3 linked regions of the Homo sapiens genome follow. The protein of the gene in region 3 interacts with the protein of the main gene of each other region in a pairwise test. Each region holds a gene or a part of one and is shown on either strand. Other genes may lie near its edges.

What was found. The genes of interacting proteins can lie anywhere in the genome.
Region 1: the proteins of SGTB (region 3) and LAT interact in binary tests that used the Homo sapiens proteins (3 or more experiments, as listed by UniProt).
Region 2: the proteins of SGTB (region 3) and FGF21 interact in binary tests that used the Homo sapiens proteins (3 or more experiments, as listed by UniProt).

Annotation. Positions count from the first base shown.
Region 1 is NC_000016.10:28,980,299-28,988,062, reverse strand, and holds the start of LAT (linker for activation of T-cells family member 1), read right to left. Parts: upstream 3,012-7,764; 5' UTR 2,688-3,011; coding exon of another isoform or gene 2,646-2,687; coding exon 2,546-2,645; intron 2,351-2,545; coding exon 2,323-2,350; intron 2,210-2,322; coding exon 2,175-2,209; intron 1,929-2,174; coding exon 1,847-1,928; intron 1,682-1,846; coding exon 1,617-1,681; intron 1,524-1,616; coding exon 1,494-1,523; coding exon of another isoform or gene 1,407-1,493; coding exon 1,349-1,406; intron 1,265-1,348; coding exon 1,170-1,264; intron 1-1,169. Other genes in the region: SPNS1 (protein spinster homolog 1), read right to left, coding at 3,384-3,454, 3,624-3,858, 4,773-4,871, 5,141-5,206, 5,518-5,707, 6,007-6,162, 6,448-6,593. UniProt on the Homo sapiens protein: Required for TCR (T-cell antigen receptor)- and pre-TCR-mediated signaling, both in mature T-cells and during their development.
Region 2 is NC_000019.10:48,751,101-48,758,534, reverse strand, and holds FGF21 (fibroblast growth factor 21 precursor), read right to left. Parts: upstream 3,012-7,434; 5' UTR 2,751-3,011; intron 2,645-2,750; 5' UTR 2,299-2,644; coding exon 2,064-2,298; intron 1,610-2,063; coding exon 1,506-1,609; intron 606-1,505; coding exon 315-605; 3' UTR 205-314; downstream 1-204. Other genes in the region: FUT1 (galactoside alpha-(1,2)-fucosyltransferase 1), read left to right, coding at 7,254-7,434. UniProt on the Homo sapiens protein: Stimulates glucose uptake in differentiated adipocytes via the induction of glucose transporter SLC2A1/GLUT1 expression (but not SLC2A4/GLUT4 expression). Activity requires the presence of KLB. Regulates systemic glucose homeostasis and insulin sensitivity.
Region 3 is NC_000005.10:65,719,106-65,726,876, forward strand, and holds the start of SGTB (small glutamine-rich tetratricopeptide repeat-containing protein beta), read right to left. Parts: upstream 3,005-7,771; 5' UTR 2,812-3,004; intron 1,725-2,811; 5' UTR 1,703-1,724; coding exon 1,603-1,702; intron 1-1,602. Other genes in the region: NLN (neurolysin, mitochondrial), read left to right, coding at 3,269-3,309. UniProt on the Homo sapiens protein: Co-chaperone that binds directly to HSC70 and HSP70 and regulates their ATPase activity.

The DNA of each region.
Region 1 (7,764 bases), on a different chromosome or scaffold from region 3:
TGGAGTGCAGTGGCATGATCTCGTCTCACTGCAACTTCCGCCTGCGGGGTTCAGATGATCCGCCCATTTCAGCCTCCTGAGCAGCTGGGACTACAGGCATGTGCCACCACGCTTGGCTAATTTTTTTTTTTTTTTTAAAGATGAGGTTTCGCCATGTTGCTCAGGCTGGTCTTGAACTCCTGGGCTCAAGCAATCCTCCCGCCTCGGCCTCCCAAAGTGCTAGGATTACAGGAGTGAGCCACCATGCCCAGCCAGCTATTTTATCAGGACAGTCTGCCTCCTTAACTGTTATATCCACAGCATTAGCCCAGCAGAGGCACATAGTAAATGCTGAATGAATGAATGAATGAATGAATGAAAGAAAAGAAGTACTTGGATACAGTCTGGAGCTCAGGAGAGAGCAAACTGGGAATCTGGATGGCAAACAAAGCCAGGGTATAGAAGTGATAGCCCAGGACAAGTATATACAGAGAGAGCAAAGCAACAGAAAACTAAAGAATCCCGGACATTGAGGAAAGCCCAGAGGATGTGACCAGGCAGGATGAGACCATGAGGAAGGGAGAAAACCAGCTCAAAGGAAACAGGGCAGTGCAGGAAGCAGAAGAAAACTGACACACACAGACACACAAGACAGCCTCTAATTAACATCCTTAGAGATGTTTCATCCATGAAACAAGAACAGGAGGCTATAAAAAAAGAACAGCCAGAGAACGAGAAAGAGCTTCTGGATAGGAGAAATAAAATTGCAGTGGAAGGGTTGAAGAATACAGACAAGGAAATCTCCCAGATGATAAAGGAAAGGACACAGAGATAGGAAAGAAGAGAGAGAAAGCTGAGAAAATCAGAAGAACAGGGCCGGGCATGGTGGCTCACGCCTATAATCCCAAGCACTTTGGGAGCCCGAGGTGGGAGGATCACTTGAGCCCAGGAGTTTAAGGCCAGCCTGGGCAACATAGTGAGACCATCTCTACAAAAAAAATTTTTTAAATAAGCTAGGTGTGGTGGCATGCGCCTGTGGTCTCAGCTACTTGGGAGGCTGAGGCCGAGTAGCCTACTTGGGAGGATCACTGGAGCCCAGGAGTTCAAGGCTGCAGCGAGCTACAATGGCACCACTGCACTCCAGCCTATCCCTAAAAAAATTTAAAAATAAAAACAAATGCCTGACTCACTGGAGAAGGCACTGTCTCGGATGCCAGGGGTGCTGAGTGCAGGAGCTGATGGGGCAGCAGTGCTAGTGGCCGGGGTGCTGTCAGGAAGCACCACCCTGAAAGGAAGTGAAAAGGGCCGGTGAGCAAGGGGGGACGCACAGCCTCAGCCCTCACCTCCCACCTCCCACCTGGCCACTCACAGGTAGCCTGGGTTGTGATAGTCGTCCTCATCCTCATCCGCATCCTCACAGGCTGGTTCTGGGGGTAACGACACAGGGGTCAGCCTAGTCCAGGACGGACCCCAGACTCCCCACCCAGCCTGGGCACCTCGGATCCCAGACGCACCCTCGTTCTCGTAGCTCGCCACACTGTTGGCTTCAAAGAGAGGGTGAGAGGGAGACTAAGTCAGCTCAGGCCAGGCCTATCTTCTTCCCAGCCCCCGCCGCCTGAACCCTTCCCCACACTTACCACCATCAGAATCCCGCCGGGAAGATGGCGTCCGGTGGGAGCCCCCAAGGGGCTGCGGGGATCTTCTGGGAGTCAAAGGTCAGGGGTCATGCCTGAGGTGGGGCTCAGGGGGCAACAGCAGTTGCAAAAGGGAAAGGGGCCCCCAATCCAAAAAAGTGAAGGGGTAGAGAGTGGAGTTTGGAGGGGGAGGGGCTGAGCTTTGGAGGGGCAGGGGCTGAGCAGCTACTCACGGGATGGGGAGCAGGTCTGGCTGGCTCAGGGGTGGGTAGGAGGTGACAGGTGGGTAGGCAGGTGGCCAGGGGGCAACCGTGTCTGAGGACACAGAACCAAGTTGAAAGAAGGACTCCGGACATCGTCAAGGCCTCAAAGAACAGACTAAGCCCCTGAAAGCCCCACACCCTGGACAGGCCTGGGGGAGCCATCTCCCCTCTCCCAGCTCAGGTCAAGGCCATGTGGGCAGCCCCAAGGTGGCAGGGGAAGTCTGAAGGTTCACGCTCACTCCCACACCAGGGGACCCTCTCCCTGGCACCCAAGGTAGGGGACCCTCCTTGTACTCACGAGGCCGTTTGAACTGGATGCCCCTTGGATACAAACTGGTAAAGGAGACACAGCTTGGGGATGGGGCTGGAAGATGGAGGATGGAAGCCCCAGCCCTGCCCCGCCATGGGGTGTGGAGGGAGACCCAGGGCGGCTGGGGCGGACTCACCTATCTGAGGATGTGCTGTCGTAGGAGCCTGGGAAAGAGAGGGCTGGTGAGGCAGGAACAGGGGGTGCTTAGGGCAGAAGGTGCTGGGATCCAGGGACTCTCAGAGGCGCTGGGATCAGGACGGAGGCAGGGACAGAGCCAGGACAGACACAGGGGCTGGGAGTGGATGAGGATCCCGTCGGTGTCCCTGGGCCCTGGGTACCCCCACCAGTTTCCCACTCACCTGGCAGTCTGTGGCAGTGCACACACAGTGCCATCAACATGGCCAGGATGGGCAGCAGCAGGAGCCCCAGCACGCAGGGGACCAGGATGGCCTCCTCCATCTGCAGGGGAGCTCGGAGCAGGCTGGCTGCACCCCTAGGCCCCTCAAGGGCAGAGTCAAGGCCAGATGAAGATGGGGTGAGGACCGGACCCGGCAGGGAGCAGGGGGCAGGTAGGCACCAGGTGGCAGGGGAGCCCGGGAGGAGGCAGCTGTGCCCTCCCCGGGGCTCCCGGGATGGGTCCCCTCTTTTACTGGGCTGAGTGTGCGTCCAGCTGACTGTGGAAAGTCCCTGCTCCCAGGGTGGTCAGACCAGGGCCTGGGCTGAAGTCGGGGGATCCAGTTACCCCTGCGTCCCAGCCCTACCTGCCCCTCCTCGGCGCCCGCCTCTCCGTGCCCGCCCTCCCGCCCGCCTGCGGCAGGAAGCTGTGGTGAGCGCCGGGCGAGGGCAGGAAATCATCAAGCTCTCAGCCGGCTGCACCCGCCCCCTTCCCACCCCACCCGCCAGTGGGGAGGGGGCAGGAGGAGGCCCGGGAGCCACCCCAGGCACTCACCAAGGGTCTGCTGGCCCCCCCCAAGACGGGGACAGCCACCTGCCAGCTGGCAGCCGTGGCCTCCATATCCAGGACCCGGGGAGGCAGCGAGCAGGGAGGCCCTGACAGTGGGAATTCTGGGGTACAAAGGGCAGTGCCCACCCCCACCTCAGCCAGGCCTGTGAGGCAAGGGACAGGCTCCAGGGAAGCAGGGGCGTGACTCACGGTCACACTCAGCCAGCTCACTCGGAGAAGAGCAGTCCCCCATCTCAGTCGCCCAGCCCAGAAGGGCAGAGACTCACCCAGAGCCCTGAGGAATGACCCACAGTCTTCAGGAGCCCTGGGGTGAAGACGGGGTGCAAGATCAGAGGCCACCCAGAGAAAGACGAGAGCAGGCACCTGGGGTCTGGCTACAAATTTTATTCCGTTACAAATAGCACCGAGCCCTTGGGGCTGCCCCTGTGGAGAGGGATCCCCCTCCTGGACCCCCACCTCCTCCCCTGAGCTACCCAGGTAGTGTCTGGGAGCTGGCACACGGCCCAGGGTCCCTCTGGAAGCTGGGCCAGGCCAAGGGGTTAGGCCCAGGCCCTTCGTGGGGTGGGCCCAGGGCCAGCTGTGGCAGATGTGCAGGTAGGTGAGCGGCAGCCTCTCAGATGAGCACACTGGCCACGGGCACGCGGGTGGAGCGGCCCCGCTGGGGCACCACAATCCGGTCGTCTGTGGACCCTGCTTCGTGCAGCAGGCCTGAGGGGGGAGGGTCAGAGCCAGGGTGAGCTGGATGGACAGACAGACAAAGCCAGAGAAGGGCAAACAGGCAGCGGGAAATGGATGGGGCAGCCACAGAGCCACCCCAGGGGTGGATGCAGACAGACTGGAGGCCAAACAAGGGGAGGGCTGTGGACTGAGCTGCCAGGTGCACAGGAGTGGGCAGACAGATGGACAGACAGACAGGCAGATCAAGAAGCTGGGCCGGGCACAGCTCCTAACTGACCCTGCACGTGCAGCTGTGCCCGCCGGCGGTCGGCCTCAATGAAGATGGCGGTGCCCAGGAAGGCTGCGCCGCCCAGTGCCCCAACAAACGCGCAGAGCATGAGCGAGAACTGCAGAGCCCGGAACTCGGACAAGAAGGAGGGGGGCCAGTTCCGGCGCAGGCGGTCAGAGATCTGCAGGGAGAGGAGACAGGAAAGCCAGGGGAGTCAGCCTCATGGATGAACCAGGGAGGGCACGCCCCTGAGCTCCAGGGAGAAAGACAAGTGGAGCCCAGGAAAGGGAAGGAGGTTTGAGCTAGATGCAGTGGCTCATGCCTATCATCCCAGCTACTCAGGAGGCTGAGGTGGGAGGATCGCTTGAGCCCAGGAGGTCGAGGCTGCAGTGAGCCATGATCGTGCCACTACACTGCAGCCTGGGCAACAGAGTGAGGTCTTGTCTCAGGAAGAAAAGAAAAGAGAAAAGAAAGGAGGAGTTTGGACCACCAGGGTGAGGTCCCTGGCCTTACTGGTAGAAATATTCAAAGACAAAATCTTTCTCCTCCAGTTGACAATGGAAGGTGAGAAGTGCCCAGCACGCAGGACACAGACACTTCACTAGGGCCAGGCCTTCTGATCCAGCCCAGGCTCAGGACACCAGCCACCCCATGCCAGCCAAGAAATAATGCTCACCAGGCCAATGAGGTAGGGGCTCCCAGCATCACCCAGCAGGTGGGACAGCACGATCTGGAAGGCCTCGGCGGTGGAGCGTCGGGTAGGGATCACCACGTACTGTGGAGGAGTTGGTGGAGCTCAGTGGATGCTCTGGGCTCCAGGGGGCAGGAGGCAGGGGGCCAGGAGACCACCAAGGATCCGCCTAGGCCGGGGTCAGAGGTGTGCCTGGGGTTGAGGTCGCAGGGCAGGCCGGGGGTCTGCTACAGATGTTATTTATTGCAGAAGGTAGGTTGAGGCTGGGCTTTGAGGGGTAGAGGCAACACTCCTGACCCCAACTCTGCTCTCATCAGCCTCTGCGCTGACCCTGGAGCTGCCCAGCAACTCACCAGCAGAATGTCGGCCACGATGGCCCAGTTCATGGACAGGAGGGTCTCTCCAATGAAGATGAAAATCTGGGGGAAGAGAGGGTCGGGGGTTCATGACAGTAAGGGCTAACACATGGAAAGTTGACCATGTTCCCAGCTCATCTATTAACTAATTTAATCCTCATCACACCCCAGTGAGACAGGTGCTACTAATATCCCCATTTTACACATGATGAAACTGAGCACAGAGAGGTTAAGTCACTTGTCCAATGTCACACAGCTGGGAAGAGCCAGAGCTGTGATTCAAAACCAGGCATTCCACCTCGAGTGGCCATTACGCTGACTGCTCCTCCACCCTGGACCCACGCCATCCCCCTTGACACCTGCTGGCTACTCACATAAGTGGCCACGATGCTACCACGGGCGCAGGCAAGGGACAGGAAGAGGAAGGGTGCAGAGCCCAGGAGGCCAGTGGCACAGACCAGGGGATCAGCCCGGGGGTTGGAGTGGCGGAGCCGGCGGCTGATCTCCACACCCAGGCCCACACCCAGGACTCCGGTCAGGCAGGTGATGAGTCCAAAGATGAGACTAGGGGTGAGGGAAGGGAATGGGGGGTTTGTCCCTGTGCCTGCCAAGGCCCCTACGCTGTCCATCCTAGCCACCCTCACAACCAAGGTCCCTACAGACACAGCACCCCATGGTTGGCACAGCCCTGAGTGGCAGACATCATCCCATCACTTATTTCCCAGACCAGGAAACGGAGATTCCAGGAGAGCAGGCAGCTTGTGAAGTCAGGAGTCAAACTCCCTGCCTGGGTCTGAGCCACAGATGCTCTTCACTCCAGCCCTGCCACCCGCAGGCCCCCCAGCATAGCCCCATCTGGGCACCTGTCAGAGGAAGAGCAGGAGTCTCCGGGAAGGCAGGGTGGGGTCTCCCCAAGGACCACGCGGGAACGCAGCAGGAATGCCGGAGCCCACAGAGCCAGGGAGCCCGTGACAAAGGCCACAGCAGTGAAGCCCAGGGAAGACAGGACGAAACTAGGACTGCAGATAGTTGGGAGGGAGAGAGTAAGACCCCACGGAGGTGTCGAGGCAGGAGGGGACCTCTCTTCTCCCTTCCTGGCTTATTTTAGTAAGGTCACAACACCGTGCAGAGGTGGTTCTGGCTCCCAGGATCTGGGCCTGTAATTCAAGCAGCTGCCACAAGGGGACAGTATCGACCGAATTACTGGCCTTGGGGTGTGGCCAGGAACAGGAACATCCCCACTTAAACCTCAAACCAGACGCCAGGGGGCCTCAGATGGTGGTCTAGGGTGGGAATAAACTCACTTTCTTGCCAGAGCCCTCAGATCTGCCCACCACGAGGTGGGGTTCAGGGGTGGCAAATCTGAGTGGCGCTCCACGGCTCCCCTTGGCGGCTCCCGCACTACCAGGAACAGCAGCAGAACGGCCACCACTCCTAGACCCGGTGTCACCTGGGAGACAGAGGGCTTCAGGATAGGCACAGGGAGAGACACACTCAAGCCCTGGGCTGGAGGAGAGTGTGGGGTACAGATAACTCCAGCCTGAGACCTAAAATACCCAGTTAAGTGCCTGCTCCAAGAAGCCGAACCTGCAATCTGGGGGAAGGGGGCTGCCACTAGGGGCCACCCTATTTTTGCAAGCCTAGCTTTGTCTCCTCTTTGGTAATTTTCTTTTGGGAAACCAGTACCCCTACTTCTCTCAATCCACTTGGTTTAAATAGGATCCCAGGCTTGGCCAACAAGAGGACTGTTAACCACCCCAGCCTCGGTGACGGATTCCGCAGAGGGCACGTGATGCATGTTCATCTAGTCAGACGCTATCCTGGAAACACGGCCCCAGGGTCCAAGGTGCCAATGTTGCTAAATGGAAAGGTAATCATCTGGAGTTCTCACGTCCTTAAGAATGATGTTAACACAAAGGAAAGTAAAGCTCAGAAGAGAAGGGCAGTGTGGGAGCCCTGGATCCAGCTTTACCTGACTGAAGCTCACCTGGGACTTTCAGGAAGAAAGCCAAGACAGCCCCTTTAGGGGGCTTACGGTTTGTTTGTTTGTTTGTTTGTTTGTTTTCGAGACAGAGTCTCACTCTGTCACCCAGGCTGGAGTGCAGTGGTGCGATCTCGGCTCACTGCAACCTCCGCCTACTGGGTTCACGCCATTCTCCTGCCTCGGCCTCCTGAGTAGCTGGGACTACAGGCACCTGCCACCACGCCCAGCTAATTTTTTTTTGTATTTTTAGTAGAGACGGGATTTCACTGTGTTAGCCAGGGTGGTCTCAATCTCCTGACCTTGTGATCCACCCACCTTGGCCTCCCAAAGTGCTGGAATTACAGGTGTGAGCCACCGCACCCGGCCTCTAGGGGGCTTACAGTTTTACAATGGGCTTCTGTCACCTGCACGCAAGAATTCTGTCTAGCACATGGCTTCCAGGTGAGGGCAGCCAGTCTCCTGCAGGCTCAGCAGAATGAGAGCTGCCCCAAAAAAGGGGTATTTGGAGCCAGGCGCATGGCTCACACCCGTAAGCCCAGCACTTTAGGAGGCCAAGGCAAGAGGATTGCTTGAGGCCAGGAGTTCAAAACCAACCTGGGCAACATACAAAGACCCCATCTCTACAAAAAAAAAAAAT
Region 2 (7,434 bases), on a different chromosome or scaffold from region 3:
AGATCGCGCCACTGCACTCCAGCCTGGGTGACAGAGCGAGACTCCGTCTCAAAAAAAAAAAAAGAAAAGAAAAGAAAAAAGTGAGGCCCAGTGGGAAGCCAGGACCCTCGGACCACGTGAGGGGAGGTGTAGAGGGGATTGTCCGGGCCAAGGGAGACAAAACAGCTGCCATGTCTTCCCTCAGACACTCACACATGCTCATTCTTATCCTCCTCTGGAACTCTTTATTATCTCAAGTAAGAAAAATAAAAAAATAAATAAGATAAATAACCTAATAAATAAAGAGGAGATGTCATAGTAAACAGCCTCTGGCTTCAGGAAGCGTAGCTGGGGCTTCGGCCCTGGGAAGGTCCCACCATGCTCAGAGGGTCCGAGGAGCCCACATCGGGGGGCTGGGGGGCCAGGATTCCGGGTGGCTCCGGGAGTGCGGGGGGCAGGCCTGGTAGTGGCAGGAAGCGAGCTGGTCCTCGGGGTGCAGGGTCCCGGTGTGGGGACTTGTTCCCTGGCAGGTGCAGCGGGAGGCCGTGGGCTTCGGACTGGTAAACATTGTATCCGTCCTCAAGAAGCAGCTCCCGGAAGCTGCAGGCCTCAGGGTCAAAGTGGAGCTAGGGGACAAAAACAGGATCAGAGACAGGGTTCCTCTGTTTTCCTGATGTAAGACCCAGGATCCAGGCCCCAGCCCTGCCTCCCTCAGACCCAGGGGTCCAGGCCCCCAGCGCCTCCTCCCTCAGACCCAGGGGTCCAGACCCTAGTTTCTCCTCCATCCGACCCAGGAGTCCAGGCCCCCAGCGCCTCCTCCCTCAGACCCGGGGTTCCAGGCCCCAGCCTCTCCTCCCTCAGACCCGGGGTTCCAGGCCCCAGCCTCTCCTCCCTCAGACCCGGGGTTCCAGGCCCCAGCCCCTCCTCCCTCAGACCCAGGGGTCCAGGCCCCCAGCCCCTCCTCCCTCAGACCCAGGAGTCCAGGCCCCCAGCCCCTCCTCTAGGAAACAAAACAGCAAGGCAGGTTTTGTTTTTTACCCCAGGGCTCTCCTGCAGGGACCTGCCTCCCAGTTCAGACTTCACAGAGAACATTCCAGCCCTCGGAGCCATCAGTGCTCTCTCAGGCCAGGCGGGGTGTCTCCCTAGCACTCAAGGTCCTGGTCACTTTACTGGCCATGGCTTCCCCGAGTGTCCCTGTGCCCAGCATGAGCCGTGCACACAGGGGCCGTGTGGGCAGGAGCAGGGGTTACTGAATCACGAGACTCCCAATAACCTGAGCCTCAGGCCGCTCCAGCATCCACACATCACATGATTGAGGTCACTGGCGCCCCGGCCTGGGCCTCAGTTTCCTCATCTTGCAAACACTGATGACAACTTCAACCTCCAAATGTTGCAGCTGGGGGCGTGCAGAGCAAATAGAATCAAGTCTGGCTCCGGGGGGGATGAGCAAGACAAGGCACCCCAGGCTGTGAGGGCGACATATAGGAGGAGCATGGTGGGTGGTGAGGAGGGTCCTGGAAACTCACCGATCCATACAGGGCCCCATCTGGCCGCTGGCACAGGAACCTGGATGTCTTGACTCCCAAGATTTGAATAACTCCCGGCTTCAAGGCTTTCAGCTGCAGGAGACCTAAGGGGTGAAAGCGATAAGGTGGTTCGAGGACCTCTCCCACCCGGGACTGTCCCACCACCCGACTCTGTCCCACCATCCGGCTCTGTCCCAGCCCTGGGAGTCCAAGCCCACAGCCTACCTCCTCCCTCAGACCCAGGAGAAGCCCAAGCCAAAGCCCCCTCCCAACTCAGACCCAAGAGTCCAGGACCCCAGCCCTTCCTCCTTCAAACCCAAGAGTCCAGACCCCCAGCCCCTCCTCCCTCAGACCCAGGGGTCCAGACCCAGCCCCTCCTCCCTCAGACCCAGGGGCCCAGATCCCCAGCCCCTCCTCCCTCAGACCCAGGAGTCCAGATCCCCAGCCCCTCCTCCCTCAGACCCAGGGGCCAAGGCCCCCAGCCCCTCCTCCCTCAGACCCAGGAATCCAGACCCACAGCCCCTCCTCCCTCAGACCCAGGCTCTGGCCCACACTCACTTTCGGGGCTCTGGTCAGCAGCGCCCCCCACCGTCCCATCCTCCCTGATCTCCAGGTGGGCTTCTGTCTGCTGGGCATCATCTGTGTAGAGGTACCGCTGCCGGACTTGGCCCCCGAATTGCAGGAGAGGACTGGAGTCAGGGATGGGGTGTGCCTGGCAGGCTCCCAGCAGAAGACCAGCCAGCACAGAAACCCACAGTCCTGAGTGCTCGAACCCGGTCTCGTCCGAGTCCATCAATGGCTCGGGTCCTCAGGTGATCTCCGGGGTGTGAGCTCGGAGAAGCTGAGTGGTTTAGAATTGGTGCCAGATTCCAGTTGTCCAGGTGAGTAGACTCAGGTGGCCTGAGTGCCTGGCTCCTCTTTCGGCTGGATCCTCAGCTGACAGAACACCCTTGTTTTTTGGGATAGATGCAGAAGCTCCAGAATTTATACCCAGACAGGCCCGCCCAATCACCCTCCCTGCGCCTGAACCATGATATTTGACCCATTTGGCAGGAGCTACAGAATTCCATCGTGGCAAGGGCAGCCTGAATGGATGATGTAACCTGGGGTCCTTTCAATGGAGGGCCAGACTCCTGGGTCTAGGGGATGAGGGAGGGGAGGATCGGGTTAGCTGGGACCCAGGTGAAAGGGGCTGGGGGCCCACATTCCTGAGTCTCAGAGAGAAGGATCTGGGGTCTCAAGCACCTGAGTCGGAGGGAGGAGGGGTGCTGGGCTCCTGGAAAAACCACCTCTTGGACCATCTATGCAGATCACGCAGAACAAGAGAAATTTCTGCGCCCCATCTGAATTTCTAAGTTTGGGGGGAGGGCGTGATCTGACACTGAGGTTCCTTGATCCTCAGCAAGGCGGCAATTGCTGTATGAAAGAAGCGACCGCATCTGAGACACAAGTATCCTGCCTTGGAAGCCTCTCACCTGGCCGTGGGCCAACCTCAACCTCATCTGTCCCTGCTCAGATGCTCAGACCCTGGACATCCCAGCCTCCTCCTCCCTGATGCAATCCTGGTGTTTCTTTCACCAGAGAAGCCATCCCAGGCCCAGGCAGGTGCTCCTGAAATAACCTGGGGGGAGGGGTGGCTGAAAGTCCCTGACTGGAGTTGGCAGCCAAGCCAGGCCCTGGAGTGGGCACCCAGAGGGAAGACAGGTTGGCTAATTTCCTGGAGCCCCTAAGGGTGCAAGGGTAGGCCTTCTGTGTCTGAGGGAGGAGGGCTGGGGCTCTGGACTCCTGGGTCTGAGGGAGGAGGGGTGGGGGGCCTGGACTCCTGGGTCTGAGGGAGGAGGGTCTGGGCCTGTACTCCTGGATCTGAGGGAGGAGGGGCTGGGGAACTTGGGCTCCTGGGTCTGAGGGAGGAGGGAGCTTTGGTCTGGACTCCTGGGTCTGAGGGAGTAGGGGCTAGGGATCTGGACTCGTGGGTGTGAGGAAGGAGGGGCTGGGGTCCTGGACTCCTGGGTCTGAGGAAGGAGGGGCAGGGGGCTTGGACTCCTGGGTCTGAGGAAGGAGGGGCCGGGAGCCTGGACTCCTAAGTCTGAGGGAGGAGGGTCTGGGGGCCTGGACTGCTGGGTGTGAGCAGAAGGGTCTGGGTGCTGGGAGTCCCGAGCCTGGGGAGATGATGGTTAAACTTCTGGGAATCAAGTCAAACTCCTGAGTCTTTGACATTGATGTATCTTGAATGGGAGGGTCAGTCTGTGGGGAAGGATTACCCAGGTGCCGAGGCAAGAGACTGAAGGCACAAACTGTTTCAGTATAATAAAGAAAATAGTTAGAATAAGAATAGTTATCATACAAATTAGATATAGAGATGATCATGGACAGTATCAATCATTAGTGTAAACATTATTAATCATTAGCTATTACTTTTATTCTTTGTTGTATAACTAATATAACCAGGAAACAACCGGTGGGTATAGGGTCAGGTACTGAAGGGACATTGTGAGAAGTGACCTAGAAGGCAAGAGGTGAGCCTTCTGTCACACCGGCATAAGGGCCTCTTGAGGGCTCCTTGGTCAAGCGGGAACGCCAGTGTCTGGGAAGGCACCCGTTACTCAGCAGACCACGAAAGGGAATCTCCTTTTCTTGGAGGAGTCAGGGAACACTCTGCTCCACCAGCTTCTTGTGGGAGGCTGGGTATTATCTAGGCCTGCCCGCAGTCATCCTGCTGTGCTGTGCTTCAATGGTCACGCTCCTTGTCCTCTTGCATTTTCCTCCCGTACTCCTGGTTCCTCTTTGAAGTTCGTAGTAGATAGCGGTAGAAGAAATAGTGAAAGCCTTTTTTTTTTTTTTTTTGAGGCGGAGTCTCGCTCTGTCCCCCAGGCTGGAGTGCAGTGGCGTGATCTCGGCTCACTGCAATCTCCGCCTCCTGGGTTCACACCATTCTCCTGCCTCACCCTCCCAAATAGCTAGGACTACAGGCGCCCTCCACCACGCGCCCGGATAATTTTTTGTATTTTTAGTAGAGACAGGGTTTCACCGTGTTAGCCAGGATGGCCTCCACCTCCTGACCTTGTGATCCGCCCGCCTCAGCCTCCCAAAGTGCTGGGATTACAGGCGTGAGCCACCGCGCCCGCCCGAAATAGTGAAAGTCTTAAAGTCTTTGATCTTTCTTATAAGTGCAGAGAAGAAAACGCTGACATATGCTGCCTTCTCTTTCTGCTTCGGCTGCCTAAAAGGGAAGGGCCCCCTGTCCCATGATCACGTGACTTGCTTGACCTTATCAGTCATTTGGACGACTCACCCTCCTTATCCTGCCCCCCCTTGTCTTGTATACAATAAATATCAGCGCGCCCAGCCATTCGGGGCCACTACCGGTCTCTGCGTCTTGATGGTAGTGGTCCCCCGGGCCCAGCTGTTTTCTCTTTATCTCTTTGTCTTGTGTCTTTATTTCTTACAATCTCTCCTCTCCTCACAGGGGAAGAACACCCACCCGCAAAGCCCCGTAGGGCTGGACCCTACGTTAGCCTGCCCTGCTCGGGGTTGGCGATGCTGGAGGTGGGCCTTGGACCAGAGAAAATGCTTTAATTAGGTGACAAGCGGGCAGAGGCCTTTGTCTCTGGCGCCGGCAGCCACGGCCCCCGCTGACGGCGTGGGAAACAGACCCTGTTCCACTCCGGTCTCCAGCCTTGGAATGGTTGCCTTCGTGCAGTGCAGGTCTGGAAAGTAGCAGTTTGGCACGGGACCCTAGAATTCCCCAAAAGGAGTGACTAGGGGCTGGGATTCTGGAATTTGAGTGTGGACGGTGAGGCGGGGGGTGTGGGAGATCGGAGACCCTGGTGGGCGCGGGAGCACCTGCAGGCTGGAGGCCCTCGCGCGCTCCGGCGGCAGCCTGGCAAACAGGTTCTCCATCCCCCAGGAGGACGCGGCAGAGGGCGGACGATCGCTCCACTCGCCGGGACCAGGTGCGGGGGCCCTGCCCAGCCGCTGGGGCGTGGCCAGGCTCGAAGCACCCAGGTGTCGGGGGCCGACTCTAAGCCCTGGCACCGGAAGAGAGAGGGCGGCGGATTGGACCTCCCGGCTCCAGCATTGCAACTGGGCGCTCCGTCTCCTGGTCCACGCAATGATGCTGCGGCTGCTCAGAAGCCAGGTAGCCTGCCCTGGGTGAAGCCTTCGCGCAGGTCAATGACGGGGCGGAGGGGCAGGGCGCGGTCCCCTGCATCCCCGATCTGGGGAGCGGTGGGCCCAGGGGCCATCGCCTTAGCCCCTGGCGCTGGGGCTCGGCGCCAAGTGACGGGCGGGGCTCCACCTTCCAGCCATCCGCCCGGCCCGGGAGGGCGGACGCTGCGAGACTCCCGGCCGCGCCCTCTCCTTCCTCTCCTCCCCAAGCCCTCGCTGCCAGTCCGGACAGGCTGCGCGGAGGGGAGGGCTGCCGGGCCGGATAGCCGGACGCCTGGCGTTCCAGGGGCGGCCGGATGTGGCCTGCCTTTGCGGAGGGTGCGCTCCGGCCACGAAAAGCGGACTGTGGATCTGCCACCTGCAAGCAGCTCGGGTAAGTGGGGACTGCCCCACTCAGTTGTTCCTGGGACCCAGGAACAACTCCTTCAGAACCAGGAGGTGCACCCCCAACCTCTTCTCCAGGTCTTCCTAAGGCCCTAGGAATCTCCGCCACCTCCCCAGCCATTACTCCTCCAGGAACCAAGATGCTCCTTCCGCTCCTGACCCTCCAGCCTCTCTTGTTTTACTTGAACTATCGTTTCCCATCACCACCTCTGTGGTGGATTTTGCGCCTCACAGACAGGTACTCCTGAGAAACAGGCTGGTGGAAGAGTCCAGTATCAGCGGAACTTACAGGAGGGGAGACTCGAGATTCCTTCAGGAAAGGTGTAGGAACCTGGACCACTTTCTTTTTTTTTTTTTTTTTTTTTTTTTAAGACAGGGTCCCTCTCTGTCGCGCAAGCTGGAGTGCAGTCAGCGGTGCTATCGCGGCTCATTGTGAGCTCCGGGGATCCTCCCGCCTTAGCATCCGGTGTAGCTGAGACCACAGACATGTGCCACCATGCCAAGCTAATTTTATTTATTTTTTTTTGGAGACGGAGTTTCACTCTTGTTGCCCAGGCTGGAGTGTAATGGCATGATCTCAGCTCACCGCAACTCCCGCCCCCCGGGTTCAGGCGATTCTCCTGCCTCAGCCTCCCGAGTGGCTGGGATTACAGGCATGCGCCACCATGCCCGGCTAATTTTGTATTTTAAGTAGAGACAGGGTTTCTCCACGTTGGTCAGGCTGGTCTCGAACTCCCAACCTCAGGTGATCCACCCACCTTGGCCTCCCAAAGTGCTGGGGTTACAGGTGTGAGCCACCGCGCCTGGCCCATGCCAAGCTAATTTTAAAATTTTTTTGTAAGAGTGCTCTGTTGCCCAGGCTGATCTTGAACTCCTGGGCTCAAGGGATCCTCCCATCTCAGCCTCCCAATATGCTGGGATTACAGGTGTGAGCCACAGTGCCCAGCCAAACCATGGCTATCTTGAAAACCACTTGTCTTCCAGTCCCCATGCCCCGAAATTCCAAGGCTCTCATCCCTGAAACCTAGGACTCAGGCTCTCCCTACCTCAGCCCCAGGAGTCTAAACCTTTAACTTCCTCTTTCCCTGGGACTAAGGAGTGCTGCACCCCAGGCGCCTCCCTTACCCCACATCCCTCCTCAGCCTCCCCTCCTCAGCCTCAGAGCATTTGCTAATTCGCCTTTCCTCCCCTGCAGCCATGTGGCTCCGGAGCCATCGTCAGCTCTGCCTGGCCTTCCTGCTAGTCTGTGTCCTCTCTGTAATCTTCTTCCTCCATATCCATCAAGACAGCTTTCCACATGGCCTAGGCCTGTCGATCCTGTGTCCAGACCGCCGCCTGGTGACACCCCCAGTGGCCATCTTCTGCCTGCCGGGTACTG
Region 3 (7,771 bases):
GCCACCTGGAAAGACATCAACTAACCAGACTGCAAGGAGGTTTAGAGCAAATGCCCAATTTTCATCTCCACCTCCTAAAAGCATATTCACAGGGAAATGCTTGTTGAAATTATAGAAGCAGTTTCAAGATGGGATTTATAACTATACTGTCATTTATTAAGTTCTTCCAAATGCACTCTCACTGCAATAATTAAGACTTTGGGGCTGGGAGGGGTGGCTCATGCCTGTAATCTCAGTACTTTGGGAGGCCAAGGCGAGTGGATCACTTGAGCCCAGGAGTTTGAGAACAGCCTGGGCAACATGGCGAAACTCTGTCTCTACAAAAAAAAATACAAAACTTAGCCGGGTGTGGTAGTGTACTCCTGTAGTCCCAGCTACTCAGGAGGCCGAGGTGGGAGGATCAATTGAGCCCAGGAGGTGGAGGTTGCAGTGAGCCGAGATTGTGCCACTACACTCCAGCCTGGGTGACAGAGCCAGACAGACCCTGTCTCAAAAAATAAATAAATAAATAAAAGACTTTAGGCCACAGGGACACCAGATTCACTGAACCTCCACAAGCCCATCTGCAGAATTCTACCTTGTTATGGTTGTACTGAATTTAAATTTTATAACACATAAACATGAAGAACAAAGACGGTGTCGAGGAAACACATGATGCTATCACCCACATCCTGTTCAACTTTACAGATTACCGAATCCAATATTAAAGTTAACGTAAAACACAGGTGAAATGCTCCCATTTCAAGTTCCAAATTAGGCACTGGTCAGATCTCACTAGTGGTATAATTATTAGACTTTTACATAGTGCTATTAAAATGACTCAGGTATTTTTATATATTATTTCTAAACTGGATGCTTTCCTATTAGGAAATGGAGACAACAAGATCTTCAGAGTATTAACCAGGATTTAAATCTCAGCTTTATCACATATCAGCTGTGTTATCTGCTTACGCTATTTGGTTTCATTTTCTTTTTCTTTTTTTTTTTTTTTTTTTGAGATAGGGTCTCGCTCATGGCCCAGGCTGGAGTGCAGTGGTGTGATCTCAGCTCACTGCAACCTCCACCTCCTGGGTTTAAGCCACCCTCCTATCTCAGCCTCCTGAGTAGCTGGGACTACAGGCAAGTGCCACCACACCTGGCTACTTTTTGTATTTTTAGTAGAGACAGGGTTTTGCCATGTTGCCCAGCCTGGTCTTGAACTCCTGACCTCAAATGACCTACCTGCCTCGGCCTCCCAAAGTGCTGGGATTACAGGCATGAGCCACCAAGCCTGGCCCTGGTTTTATTTTCTCACTTGTTAAATGGGGATAATACTAACATAACAGTTGCTGTGAAGAAAAAATTGCCTATAATATGAACAGCATACTTCTGACATATAGTATTTGTTCAATAAATGAACAATAGTCCTCTTAATTTGTTGTTAAAACAAACAAAACAAGCTTCAGAAAATGGAAATACGATAACCTTATAGTCAGGCCTCTCCTCTTGAAAGATCAAAAAAAATTCTGATTATGTTACAATAGATCATCAAGTTGGGCTTACAGCTATTTTAGTCTTCGTTTATAATTATAATATAAATGAACACAAAGAGCAGATGCATACCTTCCAAACTTTCTTGTTCATCCGAGGTGTAAGTGTCCATCTGACTTTGTTCCCGTAAGAAACGAATAACTGCATAAACCAGGTGCTTGATAGATGACATTTTAGAAGCTTAAACACTTTTCCTTGATAAGAAAAATGAAAACACTGAACTAAGTTATTTTAAAGAATCAGTCAGGAAAGTCATAAATTACAAAGATGATATGGGTTATAAAGTGTATTAAAGGTAAAAACAAAACACAAAACTGTATGACCTTTCATCTTTTCTCTTTGTAAAGAGTCAGGAGAGCACAAAGTATTGTGAAGGTAATTTATTACATATTTTCATTAATACCCAGTGGTATACGAGTATGTTAAATCTTGGAATAAGTAAAAATGTCTTCAAAACATGTACAGCATAAGCTTAGACTGTCACTGCATATCTCACCATACAGAAATCCCCTAAAGGCCTCAGTACTAAGTTAAGAGGCATTTCATACTGCTGACTAAAAGCTGATGTATACCAAGCATCTTCCTCTTTTTCATGGGATCTAAAAAAAGTATTAATAATGTACACTCTACCCACTTTTGTAGGTTGAGAGTTATTTGATGAGGAAACACATTCGCGAAAGGTTATTCAAGTGGTGAGTGTCGTTCTTAATAAAAATGGCATTTCTATTTAATCAGCAGACATGTCAGGAAATCGCTGCCCAAGTCGATGGATACTACAAGCCGACCGGCGCTCCCTGCAGAGGCTGTGCTCTCGTGGACAAGCTGGAAGCTCCCGGTCATGTTCATTCACATGGAATACTATCGCATCCAAACAGTGGCGCAGGGCCAGGCGGCATTCATGGCTGATTTCCACCAAATCGCATCATCCATCTGCTCCCCAGGTTCCCTAATTCAAAGCCAGGGTGTGGTACCCGCCGCTATAATGTTTATTATTTGTGTAGTTATTTTAAAGGCGATGTCAGCCTCTAGGCCACGGGGTCATAAGCACTAAATAAGGCCCCAGGGCAGAAGGTAAAAACAGAATGGGGGGAAAAGGGGTGAGAAGAGGGAAATAGGCTTCTCCCCCTTCCTCTCCCCAGAGCGCATCGAGCTCCCCCTCCCTTCCGTCCTCCCTCAGGTACCCGGCCTCGCCTCGGCCCTGCCCGGTGTGCAGCGGGTGCCGGTGCGGGCCCCGGTCCGGAGCGGCGGGAGGCGCACCCTTGCCAGACAGAAGCCCCTTACCAAGCAGGAGGACGCGAGACGACTGCTGCTGGCCCGCGGGGTTCCGTAGGCAGGCCCGCCCGACCCCTGGTCCTCGGGGCTGGAGCCCGGCTCGGGATCGCAGCACTGGTCGCGGCGGCGCAAACTTCCCCGGCCCCTAGGCCGTAGACCCCAGAACCCACCAGGCTGTGCTCTCTCTCAGGCGGCAGGGTCTGGCCAGCACCGCCCCTGGGGCGGGGCCGGACGCGAGGGCTGGGGCGGGGCCAGACACGCGAGCTGGGGCGGGGCACGGCGCGGGGCGGGGCTGGTAGGCGCCGGCGTGGAGCTGCCGCACGTGGGAGGGCGCTGGCCAGGCAGCCACTGTGGCCTCTGCGGCTAGGCCGGCTCGAGACTCCCGGGCGCCCAGGCGCTGCCGCCCGCCTCGCCGCCCCACGCCGAAGGACCACGCGCCCGCCGCCGCCAGCCTCTCAGCGCTCCCATGATCGCCCGGTGCCTTTTGGCTGTGCGAAGCCTCCGCAGGTACCTCCAGCGCGCGGGTTAACCTTGGCCGTGGGCAGGGCGGGGTCTTTCGCCGTGTGGTGCCTGGAGCCCGGACCCACCCCTTCCCGACCGCGCCTCTCCGACGCTCCCGGGACGCACCCTCCCCGCGGCTTGCAAGGTGGACCCCTGGGGGACACCTGGCGCGGCCACCTGGGGCCACCTTTCCCGCCTCCGCTCCCTCGGGAGGACGTCCATTCCTCTTTGTTTGGGACTGCCTCAGCCGCAGTCAGCGAGGCTGGTCACAGACGCGGCCCAAAATGAATGCAAATAGTTTGGATAAGAAAATCATTTCACGTTCAATCCCAATGCAGAACTACAGACCTGTCATTAAAAGTGCCGCAGCTGTGGACTCAGAACAATTGTGTTTGCTCCTCGCGCCCATTATTAGCATTCCAATCGTTTAACATCCACCCGAGATGAAACCTCTTTGGTGGTGTTGCTTGTTTCCGTCCATGCTCTCTGACTTCCTTTTTTATTTTCCTCCTCCCCATAAAACAAACATTCTGCCTCTTGCCGGTGCAAATTGACTTGGCCCAAAATGGAGAAAATGATCGCTTGGACACGGCTTTGGGCAGCCTGAGCTGCTGTTTTGGATTGCTTCCTAGCCCTCTAACCACACCCCACTGCAACAGACCAGTAGCAAGATGGTGAGGGAATTAAATTCTTTGCACGGATGCGCTGGTTTTCGGAAACAATGCCGCCACCATCCCCGTTTCCAAATCTGCCCAGAACTGTAAATCCAAATGAAGATTCAACAGAATAAAGAAAATGTGTGCTTCTTGCTAGCTATCAACAAAACTACTTTGTAACATGTCAGCATTTAAGCTTTCTACAGTTCCCTTTTGCACATTGCCACTCGTCTGTGTGGATGGAGCTTTGTGTTGCTCAGTCCGTAGAGTTAGGGAGCAGGCAGGCGACAGTGGTTAATTACAAAGAGTTAATGTGGTGATTGGTGACCATATTTCAGCCTGTCGTTTTTTGCTAGTCTCCAGGCTGCAATCGATATAGCTGTCAAATGAAGTTATACCAAGAAATGAAGACTTCACATAATGCAGGGGTGAGAGGAGGGAATAAATCTTCATATAAGAGCAATTCTCGGCCGGGCGCTGTGGCTCATGCCTGTAATCCCAGCACTTTGGGAGGCCGAGGCGGGTGGATCACGAGGTCAGGAGATCGAGACCATCCTGGCTAACACGGTGAAACCCCGTCTCTACTAAAAAATACAAAAAATTAGCCGGGCGTGGTGGCGGGCGCCTGTAGTCCCAGCTACTCGGGAGGCTGAGGCAGGAGAATGGCATGAACCCGGGAGGCGAAGCTTGCAGTGAGCCGAGATCGCACCACTGTACTCTAGCCTGGGCGACAGAGCAAGACTCCGTCTCAAAAAAAAAAAAAAAAAAAAAAGAACAATTCTCAAACTTTTTATTCTCAGGACCCCTTTACCTTTCAAAAATTACCGTGGACCTAAGAGCTTCTGTTTGTGTGGTATATCTGTCTATATTTACCATATTAGACATTAAAGCTGGAAAAAAATTAAAGTAGTTGTTAATTTACAAAACTAATAAATAGGCTAGGTGCATAAATAGTGATTTTAATGAAAAATAACTATTTTCCAAACCAACCCCCCCGCCCCCCAATCAGTGAGAAGATTAACATTGTGGGGTTTTTTCCCTTTTTTTTAAAATTGTGGTAAGATATAACAAAATTTACCATTTTGATAATTTTTAAGTGTACAATTGAGAGGTACAGCCAACACCACTGTCCATCTCCAGAACTTGTCATCATCCCAAACTGAAACCCTGTACCTATTACACAATAACTGCCCATTACTTCCTCCCCCAATCCCTGGTTAACCATTATTTTTTCTCTATGAATTTGAGTATTTCAGGTCCCTTATATAAGTGGAATTAGACAATATTTGTCCTTTTGCGTCTGGTTTATTTAGTATAGCGTTTTTAAGGTTTATTCGTTTTGAAGCATGTGTCGGGATTTCCTTTTTAAAACTGAATAATATTTCATTGTATGTATATACCACATTTTGTTTATCCATTTGTCAGTGGACATTTGGGTTGCTTCCACCTTTTGGCTATTGTGAATACTACTACTATGATCATTAATGTGCACATGTCTGTTTGAATCCCTGCTTTTAATTCTTTGGGATACTGTATGTACCTAGAAGTGAAAATTGCTGAGTCATAGGATAGTACTATGTTTAGTTTTTGAAACCATACTGTTTTCTTCAGTGGCTGTACCATTTTTACATTCCCATTGGCAGTACCTAAGGATTCCAATTTCTCCACATCATCATCAGCACTTATTTCCTGGTTTTGATAACAGTTATCCTAGGAGTGGCATTGTTTCTTTTTTTTTTCTTTTTTTTTTTTTTTGAGACAGAGTCTCTCTCTGTCGCCCAGGCTGGAATGCAGTGGCGCTATCTCGGCTCACTGCAAGCGCCGCCTCCCGGGTTCACGCCATTCCCCTGCCTCAGCCTCCCAAGTAGCTGGGACTACAGGCGCCCGCAACCACGCCCGGCTAATTTTTTTTTTTTATTTTTAGTAGAGACGGGGTTTCATCCTGTTAGCCAGGATGGTCTCGATCTCCTGACCTCGTGATCCGCCTGTCTCGGCCTCCCAAAGTGCTGGGATTACAGGCGTGAGCCACTGCGCCCGGCAGAAGTGGCACTGTTTCGCATTTTTGCAAAACTAATGTGTGACATAATAGAAGGTAACTGGATTCTTATGTCTGCCTCTGCATTTAAGCTGCTGCACTGTTTCATTTTGGTTTAAGATGAAGAAAATCCCACCTCACAGTCATATGAAGTTGGAAAGAAGAATATTTTAATAGCTTTTTAAAGATAATCATGGATGTTCTTTGATATCACATCAAAGTTTGACAAATCGTAGCTTTTTAAAGGTTAGTTACAAAGTGGAATTTGAAACTATATCAATGTACTTGTTTTACACTGTTACATTAATATCCAATGGTGTACCTTACACTTTGAATGGATGTTGAATCCATGCCTGTTTTTTAAAACATTAAGCATAAGTCCTTCGGAAATTTTAGTGGTTCACTGTGTTATACAGTTCTTCCTAATGTTGACATATTTCATTATACAGTATCAAACAATCACTTTCCTTAATGTCTTCCTATTTAGTCGGAAAAGTCTTCAAGTATTGGGAAGCTGTCAAGCTCACAGTGGCAGATAGGATTTTCCAAAATTCTAGTTTTCACTTGAAAGCTAGAATTTTATCATTGGTAACACAAACTGTCAGTTGTTTTACTTGAAGTGACAATCTCACTTTGTTACATTTTTGACAGAATTTCTGCCACATACTTAAGTCTGAATAACCCTGGTTTGTCTGTCAGTAGTTTTTTTCTGGTAAAAATGGTGTTCCATGGGCTGGGCACGGTGGCTCACGCCTGTAATCCCAGCACTTTGGGAGGCCATGGCAGGTGGATCACGAAGTCAGGAGATCGAGACCATCCTGGCTAACACGGTGAAACCCTGTCTCTACTGAAAATACAAAAAATTAGCCGGGCGTGGTGGCGGGCGCCTGTAGTCCCAACTACTCGGGAGGCTGAGGCAGGAGAATGGCGTGAACCCGGAAGGTGGAGTTTGCAGTGCGCCGAGATTGTGCCACTGCACTCCAGCCTGGGCGACAGAGCGAGACTCCGTCTCAAAAAAAAAAAAAAAAAAATGGTTTTCCATGAAAAAAATCTATTTCAGCTCACAGTTCAACCAATTGCAAAAGTGCTTTTGATTTGGGCAACCAAATCCTCAGGACAACCCTTATACTCAGGTACACAGCAGAAATGCTTTGTGTGTACTTGGTCACATATAACTCAAAGGTAGAGATTTAATAAAAATTCATACTTTTTACCATTTCATTAAGGATATTCTAAAATGAAATTGACATTATTTTTAGCCTGAGTGCATGGCAATGAAAAATATAGCTACTAGTATAGTTTGGTGTCATTGCCTCAATTTGTGCTGAAGTACCAACAGTATTATCCACCATTCCTTTTCGCCATCAGTGCAAATGTTCATAAAGTAAAAAGGATAAATAATGTCTTAGTATTGTTATGAAAGATTTTTAACCTCACAGATTCCTTGAAAGTGTCTCAGGAACCCCTCCCCATACCTCTACCTTTAAGGTTTGTGGACTACATTTTGAGAGCTGCCGATATGTGGTATTAGATTCTTTGTTTATGCATGGAAGAAAATAAATATACTAATAGCCAAAAAATTATTACCTTGTTAGAAGCTACCATAAATATATTAACTAATTTGTTACATAAGGGCATATCTTACAGTTAATCATCATATATGGTAGTCCTTAACCCAGGGCTTCCTTGACTTAATCACAGAATCTGCTCTGTTTCAAAATCAGTATCTTCCAAAAGAGTTCATATTAGACAACATGGAGGACCCCCTGTGTTCTCC